4 separate regions of the Homo sapiens genome follow, and all the other regions are reported to be linked to region 1. The links are microRNA targets in miRTarBase. Many come from high-throughput screens and were not tested one by one. Region 1 holds a microRNA gene; each other region holds the end of a gene's coding sequence.

What was found. Region 1 holds the annotated microRNA hsa-miR-7-5p (UGGAAGACUAGUGAUUUUGUUGUU, at 5,790-5,813, opposite strand). A microRNA usually pairs through its seed, bases 2 to 8, with sites in the 3' UTR of a target mRNA and lowers its output. Matches are read on the target gene's strand: a 7mer-m8 pairs with bases 2 to 8, a 7mer-A1 pairs with bases 2 to 7 and ends in A, and an 8mer does both.
Region 2: miRTarBase lists SSU72 as a target of hsa-miR-7-5p. The part of its 3' UTR that is shown has no 7-base or 8-base seed match.
Region 3: miRTarBase lists USP31 as a target of hsa-miR-7-5p. Seed matches in the 3' UTR shown: 7mer-A1 at 2,707-2,713.
Region 4: miRTarBase lists SLC67A2 as a target of hsa-miR-7-5p. Seed matches in the 3' UTR shown: 7mer-m8 at 4,824-4,830.

The regions. Positions count from the first base shown.
Region 1 is chr9:83,964,022-83,971,958 of GRCh38, forward strand. It overlaps MIR7-1 (microRNA 7-1), which reads right to left and starts at 5,836; the gene lies at 5,727-5,836. It overlaps HNRNPK (heterogeneous nuclear ribonucleoprotein K), which reads right to left. Exons shown (of 17, transcript NM_031263.4): 11 at 7,861-7,937; 12 at 7,651-7,705; 13 at 7,252-7,335; 14 at 6,876-6,891; 15 at 6,716-6,798; 16 at 6,141-6,310; 17 at 4,062-5,419. The coding sequence ends at 5,386.
Region 2 is chr1:1,535,825-1,543,761 of GRCh38, reverse strand. SSU72 (SSU72 homolog, RNA polymerase II CTD phosphatase) reads left to right here. Exons shown (of 5, transcript NM_014188.3): 5 at 1,595-2,089. The coding sequence ends at 1,696. TMEM240 (transmembrane protein 240) reads left to right here and starts at 3,138. Exons shown (of 4, transcript NM_001114748.2): 1 at 3,138-3,472; 2 at 3,972-4,078. The coding sequence starts at 3,416. RefSeq lists a silencer at 4,259-4,553.
Region 3 is chr16:23,061,857-23,069,793 of GRCh38, forward strand. USP31 (ubiquitin specific peptidase 31) reads right to left here. Exons shown (of 16, transcript NM_020718.4): 16 at 1-7,760. The coding sequence ends at 6,190. Among named protein-coding and RNA genes, the nearest start is that of USP31, 84 kb to the right of the region's middle. RefSeq lists an enhancer at 6,114-6,615.
Region 4 is chr2:102,711,228-102,719,164 of GRCh38, forward strand. SLC67A2 (solute carrier family 67 member 2) reads right to left here. Exons shown (of 6, transcript NM_032718.5): 6 at 3,403-7,937. The coding sequence ends at 7,193. SLC9A2 (solute carrier family 9 member A2) reads left to right here. Exons shown (of 12, transcript NM_003048.6): 12 at 1-128. Among named protein-coding and RNA genes, the nearest start is that of SLC67A2, 22 kb to the right of the region's middle.

The DNA.
Region 1 (7,937 bases):
GGTAGGAGAATTGCTTGAATCCCAGAGGCAGAGGTTGCAGTGAACCAAGATTGCGCCATTGCACTCCAGCCTGGCAACAAGAGCGAAACTCCATCTCAGGAAAAAAAAAAAAAAAAAAAAAAAAGACCAGCCTGGCCAACATGGTGAAACCGTGTCTCTACTGAAAAAAAAAAAAAAAAAAAAAAAAAAAAAAAGGCGGGGCGCGGTGGCTCACGCCTGTAATCCCTAGCACTTTGGGAAGCCGAAGCGGGCAGATCACGAGGTCAGGAGATGGAGACCATCCTGGCTTACATGGTGAAACCCTGTCTCTACTAAAAATACAAAAAAATTAGCCGGGCGTGGTGGCGGACACCTGTAGTCCCAGCTACTCAGGAGGCTGAGGCAGGAGAATGGCGAGAACCCGGGAGGCGGAGCTTGCAGTGAGCAGAGATCACAGCACTGCACTCCAGCCTGGGTGACAGAGCAAGACTCTGTCTCAAAAAAAAAAAAAAAAAAAAAAAAAAAATTAGCTCGGTGTGGTGGCTGTAGTTCTGTAGTCCCAGCTACTCCGGAGGCTGAGGCAGGCAAATCACTTGAACCTGGCAGGCGGAGGTTGCAGTGAGCCGAGATGCCACTGTACTGCAGCCTGGGTGACAGAGGGAGACTATCTCAAAAAACAAACAAAAAACCCAAAAAAACCTATAAGCATTACAGCTTGCTTGCATCATTCTCCTCAAGATTGAAAATCTCAGGAGAAAGAGTCTGGTTGGCCAAGCCTAAATCAAATGTCCACCCTCTGGGGTGACAAAATAACCCGTTAAGGACCAGGATTTCTTTCTCCTCAAGCCTATGTACAATGGAGAGAGAAAAACTCAAGGAAAACTGTGTGCAATTAGAAAGGGGAAACTGATGTGGTATTAATAAGATGTCCATTATAATTCACCCTTTAGCTGTTCAGCATTCAAGAATTTTTTTCTCATGTACTTTCAGAAATACTAGTATAATGCAGTTATTCTTCATAAGTTTCTCACCCCCTCTTCTGAGGGAGACAACCCAGTCTCATTATTTGCTGCATCACAATCAAGTCCAGGATATGTGGGTGATGTACATTTCTGCTTTAGCTTCAGCTTAACTGTGTTAGATCAAGTCCTAGAAGCAGAGCCTAAGCCAGGGATTTTTGTGCAATTGATTCACTTCGAGAGTGCTCTCAGTTGAAGCAGAATGAGGAAAGGAGCACAGGGCAGGGAAAATTGGTCAAACCATGATGCAGTCTCAGCAGTGTCAGCCTGATCCCGAGTTCCAGAGTCTGAACTATACACAGAATTGGTACCAATTTGAGACACAAAGTATGAATAAATGATCTGAAGGCCCATTCCAAGTGAGATCACCTCCACCTAGAATTTATGGTTTGATTGCATTAGTCTTAACTCTCCTGTTTCTTGGTAATTCCAGGGTAAATTCCTAGATATGCCTTGTGAGTTTTCTCATAAATTCCCATTCCCACTGATAGCAGAAAAAACTGGTCTTCCTTTTTTTATTTGAGACGGAGTTTTTCTCTTGTTGCCCAGGCTAGAGTGCAGTGGCACGATCTCGGCTCACTGCAACCTCCGCCTCCCAGATTCAAGCAATTCTCCTGCCTCAGCCTCCTGAGCAGCTGGGATTATAGGTGTGCGCCAAAGCTAATATAACTGGCACTCAATTCAGTGGTCTCTCCTTGACTATCTCGCCTTGGCTTTCACTGGTACTGCAAATCTTTTGCTATTCTGCCATCTGTATCCAGCCACTAGCTGGGCTCTTTATCTTACAGCTGCTACTATGCAGTAACCCTATCTTTCACCATAATGACCCCATCACAAGTCCCATTGGTTCTCAAGTGATGTCCCTCTTACGACATCTGGGAATCAAAGGAAAATTCTGTGGGGTGTTTGTGTCTGTAATCTCAGATCATCTCTGTGCCAAACATTGTGTATCTCTCGGTCTTCTGTGCTTTCTATCCCATGTGGTCATAGGAACACTTTGCAGGGTTTCAAATTAGAAGTGAGGCTAGTGCCTTGTTTTTGTGCTTTTGGCGTCCTTTTCAACCCATCTGGAGTTTCTGCTCTCTCATTAATCATCTCCCACTGCTCTTGCCCCGGTCTGAAATATAGGAAGGTCTCTGGGGATGGCCTGAGCCAGGAGCCGAGATAGCACCACTGCACTCCAGCCTGGGCGACACAGCCAGACCATCTTTTTAAAAACAAAAATTCTTCTCCTTTTTTTGGTTCTCTTTAACATAAAAACTTACTGGATTGAGACAGGGTCTGTCACCCAGGCTGTAGTGCAGTAGTGCCATCAAGGTTCACTGCAGCCTCCACTTCCCGGGCTCAGGCGATCCTCCCACCTCAAGCCTCCTAACTGGGACTACAGGTACGCGCCACCATGCTTGGCTAATTTTTTGTAGAGATGGGGTTTCACCATATTGCCCAGGCTGTCTCAAACTCTTGGGCTCAAGCCATCTGTCCACCTTGGCCCCCAAAATGCTGGGGTTACACGTGTGAGCCACTGCACCGAGGCTAATTAAATTTACTTCGAATCACAGCAATCTGAAGCAATTCATTACCTAATTCACGTGGAACGGTAGTAATTGAGTACTAAAAAACCTTAAAACTAATGAAAGGGTTTTTTAAAAGGAAATTTTGCTGTTTGGTTTGATTTTCTTTGCTATTAGATCAGATTTAGTATTTTACATTATATGTCTCAGTACAATAAAACAAAGGCAAACAAAATTTGAATAGTAGGGAAAGGTTTTAAATTCTTGAGATAACTAGTACAACTTGGTTTCTGTCTGTTGGCATTTTGGTAATTAACTTACAAAAAGTTAGGCTAAATTTTTGAAACTAAGTCAGCATTATACACCAGTAACTTCTTACAAAATTGTCTCAATATTCCATTTAATTAAAGAGCTTATGTTCACTTCTCCCACCCTTTGTGAAAATTCTCCCAACCTGTCCCAATTCTCACCCAAATTTTAAATACCATTTACCAATCAATAGCAGTGGCAATGCAAAAGGCCCCTCTCCCTCCCAAAGCTGTATATCAAAGATATCAATACCAGATATTCTTCAATCCATTAAGTCTTCAGTAGAATGATGTGTTTAAGGTCTGAAATTATTGTAAAATGCAAAAGTGAAAACATTTGCAGCTAATGGTCCATGTGTTACATAACTCATTTACAGGTAACAGATAAAAGCTTTGGAAGCCAGTGTTCTCTCCAGGGATGCTTTCCTTCAGTAGGATTAACAATTTGACTAAAGTGTCCTTGTCATTTTTCTTTAGGGGTAAGGGCTCATTTCACCCTGAGCAACCCCAACTCAACCACACTGGGGAAACCATACCACAGGTAGCATTCACTAGTTTTAAGTAATATTTTGACATTTACTTCATGTTCTTCATTAATCAAAAGATCACTCTACGTCCCTCCCCAAACTAAATGTCACTCAACTCTACTTCCCTTAAAAGACATTATTCTGTTCATACTATTAATACTTACATGAATTCTAGAACTGCCCAACTGTTACTTTTATTATACACAAGCCTCTGACCTAAATTCAATAATTACATTCATGACTCCTTTCCTATATAGTTGTTCATCTGTTTTGAGGCAGGAAGATTGCTTGTGCCCAGAAGATGGAGGTTGCAGTGAGCCAAGATTATGCCACTGCACTCCAGCCTGGGAAAAACAGCAAGACACTGTCTCAAAAAACAAAACAAAACAAAACAAAAACAGTTTTCAAGCTTTCTGGACAGCTGGAGGTTAATAAGTAGTACTTCAGAAATATGAGCCGGGAACCATACTCTGCAGTTATTTTACATTATCTCCGATATTCTCAAACATCAAACTAAAGCTATTTTAGAGAAAGGAACCAAGTAACTCACTCAAAATTTCTCATAGGTAATGAGGAAAGCTCTGGCTGACTATAAGAAAAAAAAAATTGGATGACTAGGCTCTCATTTTGCTAAATTACCACGTTAATTATGAGCCCAACTACCACCCCTGCCAGCTTTCACTTATAAATGCTAGAAAAACACTTCACACAAAAAAATACATAAGATTACTATATTTCCTTTTAAGAGGAACGTTTCAACAAATTTTACAGGTGTCAATCAACCCTTGTTCAAATCGGGCACACATCAAATCTAGCATCATGGGTGTTTTATTTATTTGGAAGTGAATTTTAACTATCAATACAAATGCCAAGATACTACACAAAACATCCACAGGAACTTTTTTCATCTTTTTTTTTTTTGAATTGTACACAAACATTTCCTACATAATCCAACATACAACAGAGAAATGGTACATCTTTTTCTTTCAATTTGCATACAATGGAAAAACAAGTATATATATATTTTACAAAGTTTAACTAATAAGACACTAGAGCAAATTGACAGTTTAAGTCTATAGGTGAGAAATTATCTAATAAAAATAATCAATTTTTTCAGCATTAGTCACTTCCATAACCAAGTGTTATTCTGATTAATAAAACTTGCTGCCAATCAGAATTCTGGTATATACTCATACCATTACTCAACTTGTAGTACTGCTCCCCACCTTAGTTCTTCACAACTAACATAGAAAATTGTTGAAAAGTAGGGGCAAGCATTTGCAAAAACAAACAAAAAATCCCCAGCTTATTATAAGCATGAATATGTATGATGGAATTTCTTCCCAGCAATAGACTTCCAAACCATCAAGAAATCACCAGAACTAAGTTTGCCAAGTTATTTTGCCTATGTCCAACAAGAGATGCACTTATATGTCCAACAGAGGAGCTGAAAATTAAACTTAGTGTTTAGTTTGGGGGTGGGTTGGGAAATTCAGCCACCATTTTAAAATGACTGTCTTAAAAAAAAAATGACCACCAAAAATAGGTTCACTAAATTTATTTTAAAAATCATAAAACGTTTCTTACAAAAGAGCATTACATTCTGCACACTGCTCTGAACAGATGCCAGGGACATGTGGACTATTGTTACTTTTCCTCCCTGTCCCACCCCCCAAATGTTACAGTGACCACAAAGCAAGGTGTTCACAATAATTACATGGGGGGAATTTTTTAAACCACCAACAATAACGAAAAATAAAATCCACTCACTCTGCTGCTGTTTCAAAATTTCAATGTTAGTTTTTGCACGCCCTTCCCCCCCCCAACCCTGTTTGTAAGGAACTAAAACATTACATCTGGTGAACAGCAAAGATTTCACTACACCTCAAATGCAGAACACCTATGAAGCAGAGGAATGTTGGCTTTTTAAACAGAAGCAGATAAAAAAAAAAAGATGCAGGACTCCTTCAGTTCTTCACTAGTCTTAGAAAAACTTTCCAGAATACTGCTTCACACTATAAAAAAGAAAAAATATCTTGCATTAGAATCCTTCAACATCTGCATACTGCTTCACACTATAAAAGAAAAGAAAAAAAAGTGCGAATTAGAATTTTTGCTCGTAACATCTTAATCAACATCAAGACAATTTCAATGCTAAATTAAAATGATAAACACGTCCATTACAATTAGAAGAGTTCAAAAACCATTAGCAATTACAAATTAAAGCAATGTTAAGTGTCAAGAAAAATGATGAGTAGTAAATCGGACATTAGTAGAACAGAATTAAGAAAACGGAATTGAAAGTTGTTAATATTTGGTAGAAAAGACAAAGAATGCTAGTAAGGTGTGAAATGCTGCATTTTACAGCACCAATCATTTGTCCTGTAGAGGCATGGCCTGTGCCATATGGCAGACTGTGATTTGTTGTCGATTTAGTTATCTAAAAACAACAAAATCACTAGTCTTCCACACAGAACTAGGCCAACATCCAATGAATCTTCTATATTTTCTACAGGCTCTGTACAATTTTTAACAAGTGGTTTTGGCAGCAGTTTTCACCAGAGAAATGAGAAGTTTGCTTGGTTAAGGCTTCTTCCAGCAAGATTAGTATTGAATGTCTTCATTTTTAGTAAGAAAGCAGAAGAAAAATTAAGGCAAACTATTAGAATGTTTAGAAGTTAGGTCCCCAAAAGGTTGAGACACCATGGCTTCTAAAAGAAAAAAATCAATTGAGAAGAAAAGCTTTTTAAAGGTTTTAGTATGTATAAGCTAACACAAAGCTAAACTTAAACTGACCTGTTCTGCAGCAAATACTGTGCATTCTGTATCTGGTCCTGTGTTCCTGTAATGGTAATGATCCGATCTTCGGATCCTTCTAAAGGCTCATCAATTTTGATCGAAGCTCCCGACTCATGACGGATTTGTTTAATCCGCTGACCACCTTTGCCAATAATAGATCCAGCCAACTGAAAAGATTTTTTAAAAGTATGTGTTTACGATATACTTTTAACATTTACTACCTGTATTTTCAAGGAGCATGAAGTTATTAATTTTATTCATTCAGAATCTTAACTGATGATCTAACGCTCCCTAAACCTGTCAAGGTTTGAGTTATAATGTATTTATGTCACACTTACTAATGTTTCCCTTAGTTAGTTAAGGGCTCAAAACCTACTTAACTACTTTTATTAATAGCACTGATCACTTGACAAGACTCAAACAGCTGAAAACCCAGCTCACTAAAGCCCATTAACATAACCTCAATCCTAAATGTGTATTTTTGTTAAAACCTTCTGAATTAAAAAATATACAGAAAGGAGGAATAATCATAAAAGTGATAAAATGTTCCTGGTAGTATTAAAGATACTTACATCTTTGGGAATAGTTACTTGTGTAGTAATAATAGGTCCACCAAGATCACCATATGAGCCACGACCCCCTGCATAGGAATAATCTGATTTAAATAATGAGCAGTAAGTTCATTTAAAAAGTATGAAATTAATGTTTGACTTCACAAAGGAGAGAACTTACCATATCCGGAGCCACCCTAAAAACAGAAAGAAAAAAATAGAAAATTACTTTGCCGTTGTAATTACTACCGGTACTTTAAAAAAATTCATTTAATAAAATGGAGTCTTGCTATGTTGCCCAGGCTGGTCTCAAACTCTCGGGCTCAAGTGATCCTCCTGCCTCAGACTCTTTTGTAGTTGGGATTATGAGTGAGCACCACTGCACCCAGCTTCACTATTCAAGTATTTTAATCTCATAAAATCCCTCTTCAGGAAACCAAAGTCCTCCTGTATCCTATTTTCAGTAAGTATCCTCAGGGGAATAAAAAACTTACTGGAGAGCAGGTAAGCATCTTAAATTATCACTGATATACACACGAACAACTATGATACTCAACCTGTGGTTCATAAGCCATCTGCCATTCTGATGGGCTCCATGTATCTATTGCAGAGTCCCAAGTTTCATCAGCACTGAAACCAACCTGTTAGAGATAAAAACATTAACATGAACCCGCATTGTATTTTGTTATAGAGCTGTTTTTAATATGCCTAATTTGCATGTTACATTAAAACAAAAGAGGGTACATATATAGGCAGCAATTTTGTAATCGAGGGGAACAAAGCTCAATAAAGTCGTAATCCTCCAGCAGCAAATAACAGAATTATTTAACTAGTAATCCAAACAAAATTTACTTGTAAGAAAAACTTTTTAATCACTATAACCTTCAACAAAACGTGAACTACATTGTGACAACCCTCACATACCCAACACACTGGTAATAAACCAAAGTTCTTACCATGCCGTCGTAACGGTCTCCAGGTCTCCCTCTTCTGTCATAGGCCATGAGGTCTCTGCAAGCATAGTACTTGTTGTAATCTAAACGTGCTTACATGCCACACATATCAAATCAAAGTCTACCTTGTCTACCACTAAGTGCAGCCTCTTGCAGGTTAATAATTCATAGATGGGGGAAGAAAAAACAACAACAACAAAAAAAACAACTTACCCCCCTCTAGGTGGTGGTGGTGGAGGAAGAGGAAGATTCCGAGCTCTGCTACCACCCCGGCCGCCTCGTCCGGGAGG
Region 2 (7,937 bases), not on the chromosome of region 1:
GGCCGTGACAGAGGGGAGTGGCCGAGGCCGTGACAGGGGAGTGGCCGAGGCCGTGACAGTGGGGAGTGGCCGAGGCCGTGACAGTGGGGAGTGGCCGAGGCCGTGACAGAGGGGAGTGGCCGAGGCCGTGACAGTGGGGAGTGGCCGAGGCCGTGACAGAGGGGAGTGGCCGAGACCTGAGGCCGGCCCTGCTGCTTGGGGCAAGGTCTGCTCAGCTCGCCTGTGTCGGGGGCGCCTGCTGGTAGTTCAGTGAGTCACTCCACAGCTTTGGCACAGGAGGCCCCCCTGCAATGCCCTTTGCTCAGCTGAGAGACGCTGCACAGGGACCTCCCCAACACAGGCTTAGTCCCTCTCCCAGGACACGGCTCCAGGGAACGCCTGGTACCTTGTCTCTTCCCCGTGGCGGACACAGCCCCACCTCAGTGAGCAGAGCATGCAGCTCTCCGGGATGCGGTGCAGTCGGAGGTGTGCCCCACGTGAGCCTGGAGGCTGCCAAGGGCTCTGTGTCCGCCGTCCACCCCTGGACTTGGCCTTCTGCACACCTGCCTTCCCCAGTGGGCCCTGCATGTCTCCCTTGCACAGAGGGGCCGGGGCACCCCAAGGCTTCTGTAGCCACCCTGCTGCGGCGTGGAGGTGCTGGGCTGTGACGAAAGGACCTGCCTGAGGAGAGCCCCACGCACCGTCCCGCCTCTGCCTCTGCCTCTGCCTCTGTGATTTGATGAATGTCTGTGAAAGACAGAAAAACAGAACAGCTTCACCAAGAAAGAAGATGGTGTGTTTGGAAAGCCCGGGAGCCAGGCGGGCGGGCGCTGGGAGAAGCTGCTGTGTGGCCGCAGAGGCTCCTGCGCTCCGCCTGGCCCACCCAGCATGGCTTCTGGTCCCCACGTGCCTCACGGTCCAGTGTGGCTGCTGAAGCGCCAGGGACGGTCTTCATGATCGCCTGGCAGGAGAAAAGGTCATAAGAAAATGTCGTCCCAGAAGTTATTGCACGATTTCTGCTTGGGTCACGTTGGCCAGAGCTGAGTCACAGACAGGCCGCTCCTTGCTTAGAGGCACTGGGTGCTGGCCAAGGCTGGGGACCAGGGGACAGTGGAGATGGCGAGTAACGAGCTGCCGGTGCCAGGGCAGGTGTGCCTAGGAGCCGGGCCTGCTCACTCTGGGGCAGCGGCCCTCTGCCAGGGGCTCTGGTGGATGGAGGCCAGGATGCTCCGATGACCAGGCTGCCCCCGCTCGCTTGTTGGTGGTGTGGAAGCGCTGGCGGTGAGGGTTGGTCGGCCCCGCTGTGCATGTGTGGGTCTGAGCCCTGGCCGCCAGGTCTCCGTGCTGGGCCCCTCTCAGAATCCAGCTCCAGGCTCCTCCCAGCTCCTCCCAGCTTCAGGTCCTGTGAGGGTCGGTGGGGAGGTGGGGGCTGCCCGGGACGCTCTCCCCCTGCAGCCTCCGGCCGTCCTTGTGAGGCAGCAGCGGTGGGGTGAGGGCCTGCCTGCTGCGCTGGTTTCTGCTGGCTCAGGCCTGGCGTTTCCCTGGCGATCCAGGTGTTAGGGGGAGCAGACAGGCAGGAGTGGGCAAGGCCCTCACCACGGTCCTGTCCTTGCAGATCCAGCACACGGAAGACATGGAGAACGAGATCGACGAGCTGCTGCAGGAGTTCGAGGAGAAGAGTGGCCGCACCTTTCTGCACACCGTCTGCTTCTACTGAGCCCAGCGCCCGCATGGAGCCGCCTCTGGAGCTTCCTGTTGTTCATACTTTTTCCTTCCTGACATTTGTTTTTACTTACAGGTGTTCTGCTGGTGACGGTAGCATTACCCAAATAAACTGTGCATATGAAATGGGAGAGGAGATGCCAAAACGCCAGATGAAAGCAATCAAGTTTCTTCTTTTCCACTTTTACTTATGAGCAGGATATTGATTACAAAGTTTTTCTTCTTTAACCAAAAAGGAAAGACAACGGTTTGTGTGCACTTCCCGACATACCTGTGTCTTCGTGTGCCTGCCTTCCCTCCCTCCTCCCCACCGGGCCGGACTGTACAGAGCCCTGCTGCGGCGTGTTAGGAATGACCTGGAATTGTCAATAAACAGATGCTGCTGTCATTGTGCCTGGTCCTGAATTCCTGGCCCGACCCTCGCCCCTGAGGAGGTGGCAGAGGCCTAGCCCTGCCGCCCTCAGTGACCTCCGACCACTGCTTGGGAGGAGTAGCTCAGACCTGGTGGTGCTGACAGGGTCTGGGCCTACCCGTGCCTGTGCTGCCTGAAGCGGAAGCCGCCTGCTCCTGCCACAACTGCTGCCTGTGGTGGAGCGGCGTCCCCTCTCCATGTGGAACCCCCCCGGGCGGGGATCCCCCAAGGCCAGCTACGGGGGAGGCTGAGCCGGGAGGATCGCCTGAGCCCAGGAGTGGAGGCTGCAGTGAGCCTGGATGGCGCCACGACCCAGGCTGGGTCCCAGGCATAGCTTCCCGCTGACTTCCTGCTGAGGCCGGGGGTCGGCTCCCGGGCCTGAGACATGGTCACCGGTCGTGGATGAGAGTTTGGCCTCAGGACCCCGAGCCAGGGACAGCCACAGCGGAGTGGTGGCCACTGGGCCTCTGAATGGCCGGCGTCCCGACCCATGGGCCTGGGCTGACCCCCTCGTCCCCGCCCTAAGGGAAGCCTGTGCGGGGCGGCCCTGCCCTCGGCTCCTGTGCCACATCCCTCCGTTGAGGATTCCAGGGGTCATCCCGTCCCTGACCTGTGGCCCCCACGGCCGTGGGGCTGTCGCGACCTTGCGGACCCCACCCTGGAGGCACGTGCGTGCCGAGCGGACTGGGGCAGTCCCGCACCCGGCGACCTGGGAGTCCAGGACGTAGGGCGGAGCAGTGGGGCGGGAAGGGCCTCGGCGCCCCTCCAGGACCGGAGGACTGGCGTCCAGGGTCACCGGACAGGCCACCGGGGCTGGGTCTGACCAGACTGGGGCGGGACGCGAAGCCGAGGCTCCCGGGGAGGGGTCCCGGCCGGCGTCCGGGGGATGGCGGTCTCCTCCCGGCGCTGGCACGGGGCGGCCTGCGGTCTGCGCGGTCCCTCCCGAGAGGCGGAGGAAGGCGGCGGGGAGGGAGGGGGGAGGAGGGAGGAGGAGGCAGGGAGGGGGCCGGAGCCGAGCGGAGCCGAGTCGAGCCGAGCCGAGCGCATCGCAGGGAGGACCCGAGGGCGGAGCGGAGCGCGGCGGGCCGGGCCGAGAGACCCCAGAAAGGCCCCGCGTCCCTCCCCGGCGCCCCCCCCCCCGCGCCTCCTCCCCCCGGCCGGTGCCGGGGTTGCAGCGAGCGGCGGCGGACGATCCAGGGAAGCGCTGACCTCTGCGGAGGCGGCGGGGGCTCAGCATCGGGCCGGGGCCGGGGGGGCGCCGGGGCCGGGGGGCGGCGCTCCGGCCCGGCCCGGCCCCGCCCGATGTCCATGAGCGCGAACACCATGATCTTCATGATTCTGGGGGCGTCGGTCGTGATGGTGAGCGGAGGGGCTTCCCGCGCGCGCCCCCTGCTCCCCGCCCGCGCGCGCCGCCTGGCCCACCTCCCGCGCCTTGTTTACCGCCCGTGCGGCCTGCGCTCCCCTCCCCGGCCTGCGCTCCCCTCCCCGGCCTGCGCTCCCCTCCCCGGCCTGCGCTCCCCCACCCCGGCCTCCGCTCCCCTCCCCAACCTGCGATCCCCACACTCCCTACGCTCCTCTCTCCGGCCTACGCTCCCCCCACCCCGGCCTGCGCTTCCCCCTCCCCGGCCCGCGGTCCCCTCCCGGGCCTGCGCTCCCCCCACCCCGGCCTGCGCTCCCCTCCCCAGCCTGCGATCCCCATACCCGCTGCGCTCCCCCTACCAAGGCCTACGCTCCCCTCACCCCGGCCTGCGCTCTCGCTCCCCGCTTGCGCTGCCCCGACCCCGGCCTGCGCTCCCCACCCCCAGCCCCGCTTCGTCCCGCCCGCTCCTTGGCGCTGACCGGTCATGAGCTCTTCCAGGCCATCGCGTGCTTGATGGACATGAACGCGCTGCTGGACCGATTCCACAACTACATCCTCCCGCACCTGCGGGGCGAGGACCGCGTCTGCCACTGCAACTGTGGCCGGTGAGTCCACAACCGGCGCCGGCTCGACACGCGTGAGCGCACATGTGTGGCGGGGCCCACTCGGGGCGCGGGGGAACCAGCCCCACGCAGGCCGCGAGCCGCCTTCCACCCTTGAGGGCTGCCAGGTGCGCAGGGGGAGGAGCTGTCTCAAGGTGGGCGGGGGTCTCCTGGGGGCGCATGGCTTTAGGACGCCGTTCCTAGAGGCCTCCAGGGTGATGGCGGAATGGGTCACGGGGCCTCCTGGTCCAGCCTGGAGGCCGGAAAGCCGCAGCCCAGTGTGATGTCCACAGTGGAGACCCAAGCCAGCCTCATCAGGGCTGGGGCAGGAAGCGCCTGCTGGCACAGGGCTGGGCCCTGCACTGAGTCCCTGGGCAGGGGAATGCAGGTCAAGGCGGGAAGGGCCTGCCTTGAGGGGCACTGGGCACCACCCCCGGGCTGGAGAGGAGCTGAGGGATGGGCTGGGGGGGCAGCGGGGAGGTGGAGCTTCCTCAAGGTCATTCAGATTGAGGGGAGCGCCCAGACCCCCCGCACCCACCGTGTGACCCCCTCTGTGCACGTGTAGCGATGGGATCCTCTTGGCCATGCATGTTTGTACGTCCATGTACGAAATAAACATCTTCTCATGAGACGCGCATGTGTGTGGCGTCTGTGCATATACATGTGCGTACACACAGCCCCCGCGCACGCACGCATGCACTTCCACCCCTCAGGACACCCTCACGCAGTGGCCGCTGTTAACCCTGCTGAACAGATGAGGAAGTGGACGGAGGATTTAGAGGACAGGCTTTTCCAAGGTCACACAGCTAGTGAAGGACAAAGGGGGCACCAGCCCAGAACCCGTGTTCGTCATCTCTGCTGCCTCCTGCTCCGGGGGTCTCTGTGCATACGTGTGGGTGTGGGGCATGTGTGTTCAGGACAGCTGCATGTGTTGCTAAGCGTGTGACATGCCTATGGGTGCAGCAGGCGTGTCGATGAAGAACACGGGTGTTAGAGAAGGCAGAGATCGGGGTGTCTGTGACCCTCACGTGTGCTGGGCACAGGGTAGGGGGTAAGAGCTTGTGGGGTGGCCACATGCTACCAGAGAGCCCCGTGTCCCTGGCTGGCAGGTCCGACTGCTGAGCAAAGGCCTGAGGTCGGCTCCACTGCCTCCCGGAGGCTGGGCCCAGACCCGAGCTCCAGAGCATCAGAAAGGTGCGGCCTCCACGCACGTGGGCTGGGGCCGTGTGCATCCGCCTGTGGCAGCACACTGAGGGCTCCGCGGGGCAGGCAGAGGCGCCTTAGAGTATTTGCACAGGGCATGTAGGGCGGCTCATGCCGTGTCCAGAGCACGCGTGGACTCGGGTGGGTGCACGCTGAAGGCAGCCGTGTGTGGGAAGCAGAGCCACAGCCTGCTGTAGACGGTATTGCTGCGTGTGTGTCCATGTATCTATGCTCTGTTCACATCTCTACATACAGGATATGTACGTTCAGCGTACAGAGTGCCCTTGTATATTGACAACATATATGTGTATGCAAAGTACATGTATGTCACAATATACAGTGCCGTGTGCTCAGGGACATGTCAAGATGTCTCCGTGTAGCTGCAGCCAGTGTGTGTGCAGACAGCAGTCTTGCACATGCGGTATCTGCGTATCCACCATGCCCGTGCACTGCCATGAGAGGCTCCCTGTGTGTACACGCTGGTGTTCAGAACGAGTGTGTGTACATGTGTAGGCCTCATACGTGCCTATACGTAGACGTTGACGTGGAGAACGTGTATGGAAATCAATGCTCCAAAGTCTGTTGGCAGGCAGCGTCCAAACTAGACATCCGTCCATGCACGTGACGTGGCGCCCCGTGGAGAGGGTGGCTGCGTTTTGCAAAGCCAAGCGAACATGCACTCGCGTGACACACCGTGCACAGGGCGGGGGTGTGGCGCTCCCGGGGCCCATGTCCACAGTATCACGCCATGTCCCGTGCATGTGGCTGGTGTGTATACGTGATGTACACTGGGCCTCAGGTGGACACACCTGGTGTGTGTGGTGCAGGCAGGACACACGTATGTACATGTCACAGACATACGTGTGCAGATAGCATATCTCTGCCCAGGCCTATCTCCTGCTTTCACTTGGGAGACCTGAGCCCTCCAGGAAGGAGGGCCAGGTGCAGGGAGAGGAGCTACAGGTACCCAGGCCAGCCATGGTGGGGGACACAGGCTGTGACCTCTGACCCCCAAAGTTACTGAGCCCCTGGGGTGGGTGAGGACTCTCTAAGGGGTCAGGAACAGCTTCCTCCCCTGAGGGCCTCTGGCAGCTGCACATTCTGGGCAGTGGTCAGCAGCTGCCCATTGGTGACGATGGACGATGGCTGTGGACAGGCTCGTCACCAGGTGATCGGTGGCCACCAGGAATCAGCCACGGTCATGGTCACTCCTCACCGAGAGCCCTGCCACTGAAAGCGGCCACTTTCCGGATATGCTGAGGGGACTGACCTCCGGGAACCCCAGAAGAGCAGGAGGGCTTCAAGGGGAGCGTGGGGCAGGGGACACCTCCTCCCTGTTCCTGGGCTCGGGCCCCAGGACCCCCCAGATCTCACTGAGGGAAGGCACCTGTGTGGTCCCCGCTGGGCACAGGGATGGCCTGGAGAGGGCTGCAAGACCCTGGGTTGGACGGACAGGCTGGGCTTTCAGTGTGGGAAGTACTTCTGGTTGGGGTGTGGAGGGTGGGGTGGTCTCTGGGTCTCGGCTGAAAACCAGGCTGAGGCGCTGCTACGTCACCGAGGGGAAGGTGGGGGAGAAGCAGGTCTGGGGAGAGAGGAGCTATTTTTAGGCACAAGTTTAAGGTGTCTGCGGATCCCACGTGGAGACACAGGCAGCTGGAGCTCGGCGGAGATGTGGGAGGCAGCCAGGAGTGTGGACCGCAAGGCGCGTGGGGCCCGCGGGCTCCACTCCCAGGCCCTCCTGTTGGACTAGGGATCCCAGAGTTGACTGTCTGGGATGCCAGTCCGATCGGCAGAGTCAAGGCCCGGAGACCTTCCTGGGACAGGGTGAGCTGCTGGGGCGAGCTCCTTGGGGAGCTTGTGTTGCCCCAGCAGCAAGAGGCCAGAGGCTGTTGTGGCCTGAGCCTGGGCAGTTCCCCCAAGAGCCCGGGGAGGGGAGGCCGAGGGACATGGAGGCGCGCAGGCACTGAGGACGAAAGGGCCCTGGAGCCTGGACGCCGTCCATCCTGAGAGGAGCGGGGCGGGTCTGTGCCAGGCAAGGGCAAGGGGGCGTCCCCCAGGAAGGGGAGAGGATGGGGTGCTGGGTAGAGCCCCCGTGGCCTCCGACAGCACCTCCCAGGGATAGAGGAGCAGAAGAAACACCAGGGGCAGTGGGCCTGGCAGGCGCGGTGGCAGCCGTGGAGGAAAGGGCACAGCAGCGGGGGGAAGGGTGCATGGGAGTGGCTGGTCTGGGGCCAGCAGGGCTCCCTGTGTCCAGCTCTGCTCCAAGTGGCCTCCGCGGCCCCGGGGCGGGCGGGTGAGCTGTGACCCTGGCCGTGGGGACCGCCGTCCTGAGCCCCCTCCGGGGGAGGCCTCTTCCACCTGCAGCACCTTCCCGTGAGCTCCAGGCCTCAGGGAGGAGGTGCTGAGTGAGGGCCGACACCCTCGCCGGCAGCTGGTCCCGCTGTCTGCCCGGACTTCACGCTCGGCCTCCACAGCCCATGGCCACTGACCTCCCACTCCCTCTGGCCTGTGACCTGGGCCTCGTTGAGTCTGGTGCCCCCTTCCCGACCCGCCCGCCCAAGAGGCTGCTTCAGAGAACCCCCAGGGCGGCCTGACGCGGTCACACCCCCACCACGGGGTAGGCGCCCCGGGGGAAGGCCAGGCCGGGGGTGGCGGGAGA
Region 3 (7,937 bases), not on the chromosome of region 1:
AGGCTTAAATTCAATTTTAACCAGTGGTGAGAGGCACAGTTGGTGAGCAGACCTCTATGGAATGCAAACACGTATTTGAAAGGCCTACAAAGAGAACTCCAACTTCGGAAATACTGTAACTGCTTTTGCATTTGGTATGACACCACACCGTTTATAATAGCACCTAGGAAATTTCATATTGCATTTGGACGACTGCAACAGATATCATTATTCTGGATGGCCTTTCTAAAGAAACATTTCCAACTTGCATGTCTACTTGTATCTTCATTCCTTAAAATGTTGAAAACACCAGGTAAATTGTGGTGTTTTGTAGGCAGCATGAGGCTCGACAGAATGAAACCATCAGATTACTTCGAAGGTGTTGTAGTGCATTCAGCTCACCACAGATTAAAACTAAATTTTATTTGCCTCCACAGTTAACACAGAGTGCCAAATTCTGGGATGTGTATTACTTAATGGTAAAACAAACAAAAAACAAAACAAAACAAAAACACGAAAAAATAGCAATAAGGGTTTTTTTTTTTTAAAAAAAAGACACCAAAGAAAATGTTTCACATTCATTTTCAAACTAAAAAAAAGAATTCCTGAAACCACATTCTGGATAAGAACTATCCTAGAGAATGAGCAAAAGTAGGAAATTCAGCGGCAGCCTGGGGTTTGCTACTGTAATTCCTACAAAAAGGCAATAATTCTATCAAAAGCAGGGACAGGCTTTCCAAGGCTAGGAAGGTTGTTTCTTTTCTTCTTCGACAATTTCTAGCTCAGAGTGACTTCCCTATTCCCCCACGGGCCTGGGGAAAAGGTTCTGGGGACAGATGCAAACCCCGCGGGGACACTCAGCCTGCTCCAGCAACTAAGACCACCAATTTCCACCAGACTGGCGAGTGCTAGGCCATTCACAACATGGTCCAAGCTCCCCAACTGGGCCTTGAATCAGAAGGGCCCTTGTATTTCAAATGGGAGTTTGATATCAGTATCTCTCAATTCTTTTTATTCTTATTTTTTCTGCTTCTCCTACACAACTGAGGAATCAGTCACTCCTGAGTAATTCAAATGGCAGTGATTCTCGCCATAATTCTCAGTAAAGGGATGACGTATCATAGTGGTTCTCAATCTGTCTGCAAATTAGAAACACCCAGAAGCTTTTAAAATACATGGTAATTCCTGGATCCCACCCCTACATGAATTAGATCAAAAGCTAGGGACTGGGACCCAGGCACTGTATTTTTTAAAGTTCCCCAGCTGATTCTAGTTAATGTGGGTCTTCACTATCTCAGACAAGTCATTCAGAAGAGGCTTAAAAGAATCTTGAGGAAAATACATGTGTGAGATTCAAAAAAGTCTCTCAAATTTGCTGTGCACCCCTTCTCCCAAAAATTGGGAAACACTAAACAAATGTAAGATGGATCTAGAACCGAATCCACTGCACAACACTCCCAGAAATTCCATGGGCTTAGTCTAATTGTGATCAGTGGCTGGGAAGCCCCAAAGCTTTTCAAAATAGCTCTAAGTCTCTATAAAAGCATCTTTTAATTCTTAGCACTATTAGAAGCCACATTCTTTCCTTGTGACCAAAATAGAACCCTTGAAGATATAAAAAATTAAAATCTATAGAAAATGGCAGGTTATTTTTAGAACAAAACACTTTAGGAAAGTCTTCAGGCTAAATACAGTATGTACACCAATGATGTGTGTTCAACATATCCAATTCCACTTCTGCTTGCAAAATACTTTACAATCTCGCCAATGATCAGAAAAACAGCAGAGAAATATATGCAGAGCAAAACAAGAAATCGCATTCATGCTCTTCTACACAATGATGAGTAAGCCATATTTTGAAAATCACAAATTTAAAAATAGAGCTCCATAATTGTTGCCTTTTTTTTTTAAGACTTAACATTTCATGTCTATATGTTTTATTGTTTGCTTGCATAGGTAGTAAGAGCATGCTTTCTGAGTTATATGGAGGCCACGCACAATTGTTTTTACTTGGGGAAAAAAATGGTCATGCTCAAAATGCATCTGCAAAATACTTTGAAAGTTGATCAAAAGGCAGTGTGAGAGTGTTCATTTAAATAAAACCACTGGATTTCTCCCCAAACCATGTAGTAGAGTTTAACAATAATGTACCCTTTATGAAATGAAAGTTAAAGACAGCCTGCACAGTAACAGCTACTTTTTGTGTTCGTTTGTGATAGGTACTGGTTTGTCAGCAAAGTTTGCCTTTCTCAACTACAAATAATACAAAGTTCCACGCACCTCCAGAATACGTGTTTTATTGAAACTGTGCTTATGACTTGCATACTATTTCAAAAATCCAACCCAGAAACACTAGTTAAATCTTTGTATCCAATAATTATAATAACCTACATTGGAAACAATCACTTCGGCTGTTCAGTAATTTGTCCGAATGAAATGTAACGTCTGATGCCCCTCTATGTGAAATAAAGCACGCTTATTTCAAATAAATGAGCTTTGTTCACAGCTCTTCTCTGCTCCATTTTCCCTAAAGGCTGCCACTCTTGGTCCCTTTACATACTGTTGCTATTTTTTTCATGATAGTTATTTTAAGGGAATGACAATGTTCCCCTCAAATCCCACATCCGTCTCATACAAACATAAGATGACCCAATGTTAACGTAAAGTGACTGTGTAATGGATTTTCAACCCCTAAATAGTAGAGACAGCTCAGTCTGAAAAGGTGGATGGAAGAGTAAAATGTCTCTAAAGATGAAGGGCACTTTTGGTTTCCAGAAGGAACAGACTTGCTCAAGAGAACCACAAGCCTTAGCCGATTTGACCGGAATCCACGTGATCTCTTTTCCCAGGAGAACTGTCACTCCATTTAGGACACCATCACATCCCTTGCTTGATGGGCTGTGCTCCCAGGGCTCCTCAGCTACAGCAAATCCCTGAAGCTTTCAGTTTTGCCTCTGTGCTCAAAGAAGGCCCTCCATAAACGTTTGCAGAATGAATGATGAAAACAAGATTGCAAAAGCGTGTCAGGCAGCCTCACAGATAATTACAGTATTTTAGCACACCACAAATACTCCCACATCCGTTCCCACTGGTCCAGCATATTATTACTTACTTTCAGTTCAGCTGCTTTCAGGACGAGAAAATACAAAACGGATGGGAAATGGTCTAAGATGACTGGAGCCTAACGGTTTGAGTTTCCACATTATCTAAGGGATTACCAAGGCAAGATGTAGGGCTGTCTTAAGGAATGATACGGCCTCAGTGCAATGGATGTTTACAAGAAATCAAGAATAAAACTTTAAAAAGCAAACAAACATTACAGATACAACATTACTGTTGGTGATTATTTTGTGCCTACCAGGAGATGACTGCTCTAATCAGGCCCATCTAGATGTCAACGAGAAACCCAGGCCTATCATCCCTAGCAGATAATTTTTAACCCCAAAGCACATACACGCTCATTGTGCTAAATATTGCTGGGAAAATTAAAAAAAAAAAAAAAAAGAAAAGAAAGAAAGAAACCAACACCAAGTCCCCAACCCTACCAATGAACTAAATTGAATCAAGTAACTACTTTCCCACAAGATACTTCCCACCTCAAGGAGCACCTCCAAACTTTCGGGCCAAATAACCTTTCCTGTGGCCTAAAGTTGTACCTAGTAGTTGGAGATAATGAAATTTTCACTGTTTACCAACTATGGAAATAAAATAGCTTCATGATGTCTAGACAATGCCATGATACTTCCTGATTTTTTCTATTAAACCTGAAACAAGGACTAAACTCCATGACATACAGTTTATAGACACTGACATTTTATTCCAGATCCCATGGAAAACCAAAGGGATTTGTAGAAACGTTTTTCCTTTTTTTTTTTAAGTCACTAGACATCGTGGAAAATCCATTCCTAGATAACTCAAGAATAAAAATATTTACCACTGTGAAAATTAAACTAGTTTCTATTAATGCTTGACTACAGCAAAAAAGAAGTGTTATTAAAAACCTTTGTCTAATCAAACTATAATTGTTTCAGAGATTCAGATAGGAGACTTCAAATGAGATCTACCTATTAAACAAAAATGAGAGGTTTGAGTTAGACATTCAATTCCTGATATAGATGATCTCTTATTTGGTGCATCTTTTTCAGGAGATAAAAGCGATACAGAAAAACGAGAGCGGTGGCTACACACTGATGGGGCTGTGATGTGCTGGGCTGAACGCAATGACAGCATCGAAGGCAGCCAGTTGCCGCAGATGTACTGAGCAGATGAGAGTGGTACTGCTTTGAGAACCCACCAAAATCTGAACAGTAAAACCAGGACAGCGAGTGAAGAAGTGAGTACAGGGCTGAGTGCAATGGACAACAGGCTCACAGTCAATGAATCACATGGAGCACTGTGGTAACTTTCACAAGGCTAAATGTCTAAATCTTAAATACTGCCAAGGGTCTAAAATTCCAGCTACCCTCAACAGTAAGTGGTCTCCAGACTTGCAAGTTACCGGCTAATGCGCAAATTAGCAGCAAAATAAAGTTAAGTAACGTACTAAAAACTTTTCCCAAGAGATATTCTTGGGGGGAAAAAAGAAAAAAAAAGTAGTGCAGAATTCACAGCTATGCATGCATATGTGTTGTAGTTAATTCACACACAGCAATACTGAAAAGGGAGGTTATATATGGATCTGTGCACCAAGGGTTCAAGAAGAACTTGAAGAGTCTGACGAAAAACGCTAATATTTAAAAGCACATAAACTTAGCATGCTGTATTTACTGGCAAAGTGACAAATGCTATTCAGAGAGAATCAAGACCTTCACTCTCTTGACATTTAAAAAAAAAAGAAAAGCTAAAAATTGAGCAGGAAAGTATTGCCAGGAGACCTTGAAAAAGCTTGCAAAACTATATACTTTGCTTATCTGTGAGGTTTTTTTTGGTGAGGTTCTCCTTTGTAAGAAATGCAATTTGCACTGACACGGCCAGATGGAACACACTCCAAAACCTGCTTGTGAGTTCTGGGCATGAGATGAAATCTTAAGAACAAAGAAGAAATAATAAATGAGTTACTGAAAGGCAGCCCTAACAGAGACTGACAGACAGGATCTGAAGTGCATATGTAACACTTGATCACACAACGCTTCAACATACCACCATTGGCTTTTGGCAGAAGGCAACTTCTTTCCTCTCCAAGCTACAAGATGAGGGAACATGAGCCCACAGACACAGGGCATCGTGGAGCTTCCCACCTCTAACGGAAAAATGCAACACCTGACAAGGAAAATGATGTCCAGTCTTTCACCCAGTTTAGAATCTAGAAGTTTTTTCCAGGAATCTGTCAAAGGTGTTAACTGCTCTACTACAGTGCAAAATTCCAAGAGCCTTAGCTAGTAATTTCAGAAGGAAAAAAAATTAAACGAGTGACTGGCTTTCTGGCTATCCAATCTGCCACTTCCTAGGACCTATCCCAAGAGTCAAGACAGGTTTTGGTGCACATGTCACCACAGATAGGAAGGTGGTGAAAGGCTTCATTTCTACCTCGAAAATGTCTATCTGTGGCAGTAGGAGAAATGACACAGTCACCCACATGGCACCTTCCTCTTTAATCCATTTACTGGTGTGCAACCATCCTAGACTAGCTGAGTATATACCTGAGAAACATTAGTGTTAAAATATTGCCCTTTACAAAGACTGGTAGATGGGGCGAAAGTGCAGAAAGCAAGAGTTTTTCCCTCGATTTGTTTCGTTGTTAGAGTCACAGTTTTTAGAGCTCCTGGTGCCACCCACAATCCACAGTAAGGACAAGTCCTGCTCAGAAGAAACACGAGTCAGCTCCTTCCTCCTTCTACGCACTAATGGTAGCTTTTCTGGTTCACAGGTTTCAAAACCCTCATATCCAAAGAAAGTCATTAGAGTTCTCTAGAAAGAAATATGTACAATTGCTAAAGGGACCGTCCTGGGTATCGTCTACAATTATTCCAGTTAGCTTGGTGTCAATGTTTTGCCTATGGCTGTTATTTGGTTCAATGGCAGAATAAGGCGACGCTTTGAACAATTTGCAATTGAATTAGACACACACACGCATACACTCACACACACACACACAGTCGGGCACGTGACTCAAAAAAGTACAAAACAAAAGCACAGGAGGCTTTGGTGGGAGGGCAGGGGTTCTAAATAAATAAACATCTTTACAGATAAAACACTTTGATTGCAGAAATATCACTGAGGTTTTTGAGAAGGCCGTGCAGAGGTTTGCATGCTAGAAGATAACTTTTTTGAGGATTTCTCTGCAGACTGCCTGCCACCCGGAGACGAGGGAACTCCAGAGTCTAGTTGGGAAGACTTGGATTTGCGAGCGGACAGCAGGGAATGTTTGGCAGAAGCAGGGTCCTTGGTGACAAGCTGCTCTTTTCCCGTTGTATTTGCATTTGGCTGCTGGGAAGCTGGAGGCTGGTGGCCTCTCTCTGCCTCGTCGTCCCCGGTGTTCTTACAGACAGACTTAACAGAGCTCCCACCAGCCTTTTTAGAGAGCAAGGCTGTCTTGCCAAGATCCGTCGAGCGCCGGGTTTCCTTCTGTCTCAAGGCTGATTTGAAGAAGGACAGCCCCTTGTCCTCAGACTTGCTGTCCCTCTTCAAACCAGACTTGATGCTTGTGCTGGGGGAGCGCAGGCTGGCCATGGAGGAGCTCCGCACGTGCTTCCCGGCCCCCCTGCCCTCCCCTGCTCGGGCCTGGCTCACCCGAGGGGAATTGGGTTTGGAGGTGGAGGTGGCGCTGGCTCTGTCAGAACCCAAGCTTTGTCTGGAGCCCTCTCTACTCAAGCTGTGGTCTGAAGTCCTGCTCTTCCCAGGTGGGAAAGGGCTCCTTGTGGCAGGGCCCGAGGCCTTTTTGGCAGATGTGGAGGAAGCAGTGTAGGTGAGGGCCGAGGCTGACTTCTGCTTCTGTGGCGAAGGAGATGACACGGAGTCCTGAGATTTCGGGGATGACTCCTTTTTGGGTTGGGCAGGGGCAGGGGATGAATGCCGTCCACTGCCCCTGGAAGAAGAATCTGCTTTGCTGCGGGAGCGGGAGGGCTTTAGAGAGACTTTTACAGGAAGAGGAGAAGAAGGGGATGTACTTGAAAGGGATGACTCCTGGCTTGCCAAGGCTGGTCTCCCCTTCCGCAAGCTTTTCTCTGGCTCAGAAGTGCCTTTGGAACTGGGGGATCTCTTAGTTGTGCTCTCTGGTTTCTTTGCGAGTGAGCCTGGGTGGCTGGGGGCTTTCACCTCTTTGACTGGAGAGCTGTCTACGGAGTCGCTCTGATCCACATAAGCGATCTGATTATTGTTATCAAATGGACCAGAGAGCGGGGGCAGGCGGTCCCCTTGTGCTGAATGTTTGCTCTGTGTATCTACGACACTGGAGTTCAATCTGCGGGTGTCCGATTCGTCTTTGAACACGCCTTCCATGACAGCCAGAGGGGCCCGGCCCACAGCCTTGTGCTCACGGCGACTATGACTGTCGCTTGGTTCCTGGTAACTGCTAGAAAGGTTCCGCAAGCTACCAAAGCAAGAGATGGAGACCTTGTCATCTGCTGCCTCCCCAATCTTCTCCAAGGTGGAAGCAGAGCTGTGAATTGGCGAATCCCCTGAAAATCGGGATGGAGAATTGGAGCGCATCTGCAGCTTAGCAGACAGGGACCATGAAGGTCTCATGCAATTTTCATTGACGGCCAAGGGGCTGGTGACAGAAGATCTGGATGACAAACTCTGACGCTGGACACTTCTCACAAATGGTCGAGTTGAAAAGCCTCCTGAACACAGTAAAGAGAATACTGTTAAGTTAAGCCAATGAAGACATTCTAACAACACTGTAAGACACTGAAGGTGAAACGAAGGTAAGCCTCATGGGATGAAAGGAGCATGACCTTCAGAGCCAGCCCATCTGGGATCAAGGAGTCCCTGTGTGGCTTTGACTTTTCTGAGCCCAG
Region 4 (7,937 bases), not on the chromosome of region 1:
CACGTTTCATAATCTGCAATATTTTTGTCAAAGTGCACACTGTACTTTCTTCTTAAAAACGTGATTAAAGAGATCACTTTGTCCGGATGAAGCAGCTGTTGGCATTATCCGCTGAGGCTTGAACACCACGTGCTGATTCTCTCATCAATCTGAAAAATAACACTCGTGGCTCAGAACACACAAGGTTAAAGTGTGTGGCGCACTGCTACTTTTTATCTCACTTTTTAACCAACCCTTTCTTCAACCCTCTTCTAAGGAAAGCAGAAGTCCCCTTTGGGTACCAGCTGTGTGGCATAACCATGGCTCCTTGTCCCTGACAGATGACACCTTCCTTTAGAATCCACCAGCATCATCCACTCTGCGTCTAGCTGACACCCTCAGACAGGGATCAGCCACCCTGGGGCGTGCAGGTCAAATATGCAGATGGGGACTTTGCAGACCACTTCAGTGTCACGCTGGCACATCATTTTTGATCCTTTTTCCTTTTTAAACTTCCTGCACCTTTTCAGATAAAATCATATTTTACTATGTATAGCTAATAAATCGTAGTTTTGTTCTCTTAATCGCATGGTCAGGAAATGAGTTTTTCTAGGTGTAGAGTTAACCTGTCTACTGTGAATGGATTATTATCAACTTTTCAATCTACACAGCATAGAGATTATTTTGATGGCTCAGAACATACGTCAAGAACTTTCAGTATGTGCAGAGGTTGTATGGGAATCTGTTGTTCTCCTACTGGAGGGTACGGAAATGTCACTCCATGAGATGCCCAGCAGACAGAATACCAGATACAGAGGCTGTGATTTTTCTGATTTCTGGAACAAAACATCTTGAATTAAAAATTCAGACATTTTAATCCTTTTTTATTTTATTGGCTCCTGCTGAGTCATAAGTATGACTGGAGACTAAATTTCTAATTTAGATGAAGCTCTTTGTATCCACTTAGGATAACCCTGCTTACCAAACAAATTTTGTATATGTACACGGACAAAGGAAATTTTTCCTTGTTTCTATGAAAAATCTTACCAAAGTTTAAATATTAAATCACATGTAAACCTTTAATCACTTATGGAGAAAATAGTACATACATGAAAACAGAACAGTCCCAGTTTTTGTATTTGTGTATGAAACCACTCTCATTTATGTTGAATGGGATTGTGATGGCTAGAATTCTTCAAAGGTAAGAGCTTCAGAGTATTGAAAATTTCAATTCTATTAATTCCAAATACATATATCTCAGACTAGGCTAACTCTATTACAGTGTAATAGAACGTGATTAGAGGAATAAACATTTTAATTGGTGCATTAATTTTTATATCTAAAAAGGCTCTGCAAAAGGGCTCAAAAATGGTGTATGCTTTTAAATATTAAATACGGCCTTCCCATGCAAACGTAAAGAAAAGAAGTTAATTCCAATTATTGCCTTAATAATTTTTAAAGATTATGCAAAGATGTGTATTAACACATCAAATTTTAGGTTTCCATGAATACATAGTTTGGCATCTGATTAATAAATAATAGATTTGCTACCATAACTATGTCTTACTATTGAACCTTTAGTTTAAGTCCTGACCTTTAGCTAGAAAGTTATTTTGAATGGCAGTAACAGTTCATCATGCTTTCAGTGCTATTCACTCCAAAGAGATGCACAGTGAAGGTACTTTGAAGGTGCCCCAAAGAAAATGCTCACCCTTGTCAGTGACGTCACAGACTGGGCCTGACAGATGTTAGGCTTTGAGATGGCCAGGCCTATGCTTCAGCCCCACAGAACAGACTACTTAAGGCAAACACCTACCAAGTCGCATACATACAGCCCCACAAGGGTCCAGCCCGAGTCAGCGGCAGAACACCTTTATTAGGTTTGCTTTGGATATTTCATGTGGTTTCAATTTCATTAAGCAAACTTGGGACAGGTTTAGGTAGGTAAGCTATCACACAAAAAACTAGTTCTGTCTGGATAAGAGGCTGTGTCTCAACTACTCAAAATGGCATGGAGATTCTTTGGTAAGCTTGAAGGAAGACTGTCTCCTATCCATGTTATAAGTTGCAATCATTAATAGGTATTTTAACCACTTTCTTCCTCTACAGTGGATGCTTAGAAAAAAGAACTGTATCAAGATGTAGTATAAAGACTGATCAAAATACAATTCTTTGTTCAAACAAGATCCTTACAGTTCATTCTTACGCTGTGTAAGTTATCAGCAATAATTAACACTCCTTCCTTAATGTTTATAATTATCTTCTCCCTGGAAGGAACAATACAAGCTGTGTTAAGTCACTTTTAAAAATAAGAATCAGTGGCCAGGCACCGTTGCTCACGCCTGTAATCCTAGCACTCTGGGAGGCAGAGGTGGGCGGATCGCCTGAGGTCAGGGGTTTGAGACCAGCCTGGCTAACATAGTGAAACCCTGTCTCTACTAAAAATACAAAAATTATCTGGGCGTGGTGGCGCGTGCCTGTAGTCCCAGCAACTCGGGAGGCTGAGGCAGGAGAATTGCTTGAACCCGGAAGCAGAGGTTGCAGTGAGCCAAGATTGTGCCATTGCACTCCAGCCTGAGCAACAGAGTGAGACTCCATCTCATAAATAAACGTTTCTTATAATATACTGAAACAGGAAAACAGAAGTTTTGCTTTTATTGTTTTAGTAGACAGCTATCTATAAAATGGTGTTTAGATACCTGTTTGGGAAAAATGAGAGATCTAAGTATTTGTGCATCTGCTTAACTAGAAATAAATCCTACTGTGAGATGTTACCTTAAAAGTACAGTTGACCCTTCAGCAACACAGAGTTGAACTATACAGGTCCACTTAAACGGGGATTTTCTTCCATCTCTGCCACCCCTAAGACAGCAAGATCAATCCCTTCTTCTCCTCCTCCCCCTCAGCCTACTCAAAATGAAGGTGGCAAGGATGAAGACCCTTATGATTCCATTTCCACTTAATAATATTATTTTTCTTTTTCTTAACATTTTTTCTCTAGCTTACTTCATTGTAAAAATACAGTATATATGTAACACACAAAATACATGTCAGTCGACTATTAATATTGTTGGTAGGGCTTCATGTCAACAGTAAGCTATTAGTAGTAAATTTTTAGAGAGTCAAAAGTTACACTCAAATTTTCTACCGTTTTGGGGGCTTGGCACTCCTAACCCCTGTGTTGTTCAAGGATCAACTGTCCTCTACTTACTGGCCTTCAGTATAAATGTCAGATTACATATATATTTGGTATCTGCATAATGGTTTTAAAAGCCAAAGCCTTGTTTTTAATATTAAGATGTGTTCTAGCATACTGGAGATGACATTTTTCAAAGCACTTCTGGATCCTGAATTGAAATATGTAGCAAGACACATCAGTGACTTCTAAAAATACAACTTATAAGAATAAATGACAGTTCCTCATTACAATTATAAAGTTTTATTTTTGAAGAAAATTATCATGTGACTGGCAAATTCAAGAAAAAAACATTAGAGCTGAAAAAAAGTTATTTTAATCCATCAACCTGTTCCAAGAAAAGCTGCTACACATCATCCTGGCTAAATCTGTGGTAACCCTGTTTTAGAGACTTCTTGAAGGCTACTAGGGGGCAAAGAGGCATGGAGATTCAGTCTCATGGCTTTTATTATGCATTCCAAATAAATAGCTGTTTTCTGAATGCAGTTGCCCAAATGCCTAAAATTTTCTGACTGGACTGATTCTCACTCCTGATAGATTTCTAAATACCTTATAGAAGTGTCTTCAGGAAAAGACGCCAAGCAACCCTTTGAAATTCCTCAAAGCTGCACACTCATCACCTGGGAATTATTCACAACCTCTCCTGCGATTGCCCTGTGGGCCACAACCTCTGCCTGCTGTCCCTGTCCTCGCGACCAGCTCTCCCTCAGGGCCCCCCTAAAGTTACTGCCCCAAAGTCCAGACTACTCCTTGGGCCTCCAGTTAATCCTCCTTGCTGCGGCTAGAGAGCTCTTTCTAAAACAGGAGTGTCTTCACAGCACTTTACCGCAGGAATTCTTCCGTCATTCCCCTTCATCCGTCAATACAATCTCAACCCGAGCATGGCAGCCGAATCCATTCTTGATCTAACTCAGTGATTCCCAACTCCAGATGTTCACAGAAACATCTGTGGTGCTTCAGAGTCTGGTTCCTGTGGTCTAAGGCATGTAGCCAGGATACAGAATCAGTGATTCCAGCTCCTTCTGTTGGCCCCAGGTGCAACTCTTGCAGAATTCACTCCCCAAGGGGCCATCCAGCCTGAGTTTGGAGCCTTGCAGGTGACTCCTGTGACTAGACACACCCTGTACCTTTTCAGAATGTTATTCATCCCTCTAGACATGAGGGCAGAGGCCTACCTTCTGCTCTATGGAACCCAAATCCTGGAGACCTGTTCCCAAGCAGTTATGGCTGGCAGAGTGTTGGAAAGGGTGACACTTCCTTCAAAGACATTTCAGGAAGGTTCAATACTCCTAAAATAAGATTCCATAGAATAGTGAGTTGCACCCTATGAAGATATTTTTGACTTACAAAAATAGCAACTTCATGTGGCTCAACCTGACACACTGGAAAGGGCTACAGAAGTTACTCAAGAGAATTTAAAAAATGAAACACCACAAATGTCAATTGAGCAGATTTAATTTCCCTGAGATTATATTCCATAAGTGATACAAATACTACCCCTTAGACCAGGGGTTTTCAAAGTTTGCTGTGCAAAAAATCAGCTAGGTATCTTATTAAAATGGTCCCCAACATGTCTGAGCTGGAGCTTCAGTGTTCACAGGTCTCAGGTGATGCTGATGCTACTGGTCTCTGGGTCACACTTTAAAGAGGAAGACATTAGATAAAGTAAAAGGAGTCATGAGAAAAGGTGCACCTAAAAAACATCACATAACAAAATACTAAAGTCACTAGTGGAGAATAACAAACATGTCTCTCTACTCTATATTCTAAGATCAGTCTTTGGTTTTCTATATTTCCATGTGTCTGATTATAAAGACTCATTAAGTTTATGGGCTTTTTAAACTTCAAAAATAAAGTGCTACGATTTTTAAAATAAAAACACGACTATAAGGGCTTTTAAGAAACTTGCCTGTTTCTGAGAGTGAAGGACAATCTTTGAGATCCAAACTCTTCTGAAATTCTATTTCATTGCATAAACCCTCGATTATTTATTGCCTTTTGAGTCTAATCTCCATGAGATTTAATTTGCTCCTTAAGGGCAAGGCCATTTTATATATTAATAATAGTTTGGTCTCCTCGAAAGCACTTAACATTTACATAAAAGTTCACAATTGTAAAACCTAATCAGAAGTCCATTTTTCCTTGCAGCAAGATAGGAAAAAGGACAATCTTCAAACTAAAACATACTTCCAATTATTTATCATAAATATTTGATTTTACTCCATGACTTCTAAAATACAGAAATGTTTACTGCTTTACAAACAATAAATATTAAAGATATGACAAATTACTGTAGCATACTAAAATATTTACAAGTATGCATGTGTTAAGTTGAAAACAGGCATACCATCCTAGTGGACTAATTAAGAAAAGTAAAAGGAATGTGAACTTCAACTGTCTGACAGGAAGCCCTTAAGTAACTGATTAATACTTGATGCAATCCCAATGGTCATCCTGCCTGGCATATGTCTCCCTGCAAGGCTATGTTCACCTTCTGTCTGGGCCTCTGCCTCTCGTGGCCCCCTCGGTGCTGTATATGAAACTTGTTTAGACAAGAAATGGCACATCAAAATATTTCCGTTGATCAACAGAATGCTTGTGTTTGCAGGCGTGAAACTAAAAATAAAGGAAATGATTCTTTTTTTTTTGAGACGGAGTCTCACTCTGTCGCCCAGGCTGGAGAGCAGTGGCACAATCTTGGCTCACCGCAAGCTCCGCCTCCCAGGTTCACGCCATTCTACCTCAGCCTCCCGAATAGCTGGGACTGCAGGCGCCCGCCATCACGCCCGGCTAATTTTTTTTTTGTATTTTTAGTAGAGACGGGGTTTCACCATGTTAGCCAGAATGGTCTCCATCTCCTGACCAAGTGATTCACCTGCCTCAGCCTCCCAAAGTGCTGGGATTACAGGCCTGAGCCACCGAGCCTGGCCAGGAAATGATTCTTAACACAAGACACAGTAGCATCAAGTTCTGGTCTGGCATGACTCCTGACCCTTATTCTGCATAAACTGTTCATTTTTAAAGCATTCCTGTGCTTTGGCTTCACCACTGGGTTCTGTCAGCACCAGAAGGATGCAACCTGACTGGAATGCAGGCTTCCAGGAGCAGGCTGTGGCAACCCCAGCATCTAAGTGGTTTAGTCCAACTTCAGAGCAAGCTGGGCTCTCAGAGGCAGGGAGCACAGGGAACAGGTCCCAGGGGCCCGCTGCTCCATCATGCAGTACAACTGCTGAGAGCTGGGAAAGGTGTAACACACTGTGATTACAAACACAATTTTAAGAGTCCAAATTTAGTTAGCTGTGTAAAAACAGCCAAGCCTATGTACTTTAATCAAAATCAGTGCAGTCTCAGTGTGGTCTTTACTGCCATGAGAAATCGCCAGCAGTGCTTACAAAACACCACGGATTTCTTGGCCCCACCCAGGCCCACTGAATCATCTCTAGGGGTGAGGTCAGTATCTTATTTTTAAGCAGCTTTGAAAAGCGACAGGCTGGTTCTAATAAACCAGCTTCTTCAATCTGCAGGATTTTGATAGAAAACTCCCTCCTAGTGTATGGAATTTAACTGGAAACTCAAGTTCCAGTTGATCAGAATTTGACTGACATGTCACCCTATTTTTCAGTAGGAAAATGCTTGTGGTTTCTTCCCTTCCTCCAGGTATCATGTTCTCTTATTCCACCACCACTTCCCTATCCTGTAGCTGGTAGTTTGTTTACCCTTGAAAATTGTAACCTGATTAGCCCAGGTGGGAAGAAGAGACTTCCAGGTAAACGCTGAATATGCTCACCTTGGAAAAGCTTTGCTCCAGTCTTAACCTTCCCATGAGGTGCCGTGACTTCTGATCATCCTGCAGGCATGGCTGCATGGCCAAGAGCTGACCTGGAAGCCCAACAGCTCACACCCACCCGGAAATATTTCCCTTCCACCCCAACCCTTTCCAAAGTGCCCTTTTCATCATGGCCTCCGGCCCTCATTCAACCATCTCAAATTTTGTTGCTTTATGTTGTCCAAATCCATCTACTCACTTTTTAATTTACTATTCCCATCACCACTAGAGTGTCGCTTGTTTAGAGACATTATGAAAATGGCCACTAAGGCTAACACAGCGCCCAGGCTGGGGGGGCCGCAAGGGCTGACCTCCTGGGCAACCCCCGAGAGGAGAGGGGCGATGATGCGGCCCACTGCAGTCACAGACTGCCCCACGCCAATAAGGGTGCCGCTGGCCTGGGCCCCGCCCACAGTCAGCTGGAGGTCCGTGATGCACGTCCTGCCAATGGCAGTGGAGAAGGACAGGAGAGTGGAGGAGAGGACAACTGCACCCATGGTGGGGGCCAAGGAGTAGAGCAGCAGCAGTGTGCAGGTGAGTATGCTGGAATGCAGCAGCAGTGCCTGCGAGTTGTGCTTGTACAGCCGTAGGATTGGCCCCAGGGCAAGGCCGGCCACGGCCCCCAGCATGCTGCTGTAACTGATGAGGTAGCCTGTCACCTTGGGCCGCACCCCAAAGCGCTCCTCCAGGGCCAGGACAAAGTTACTGTAGTACAGCATGACTGCCATGGCCATCAGCAAGCGCACCAGAAATATGTCCCACATTTCGGAAAACAGCAGGTTCTTCATGTTCCGCAAGGCCAACACTACTTCGACCCAGGGCTGGGCAGTCTTCTTGCTGGCCCTGGCTCTGCGGCTGGTGGCTGCCTCCTGCACTGTGTCATGGCTCCTTCCCAACAGCACATGGGTCTTTCGCAATGGCAGGCCCTTCTCTGTA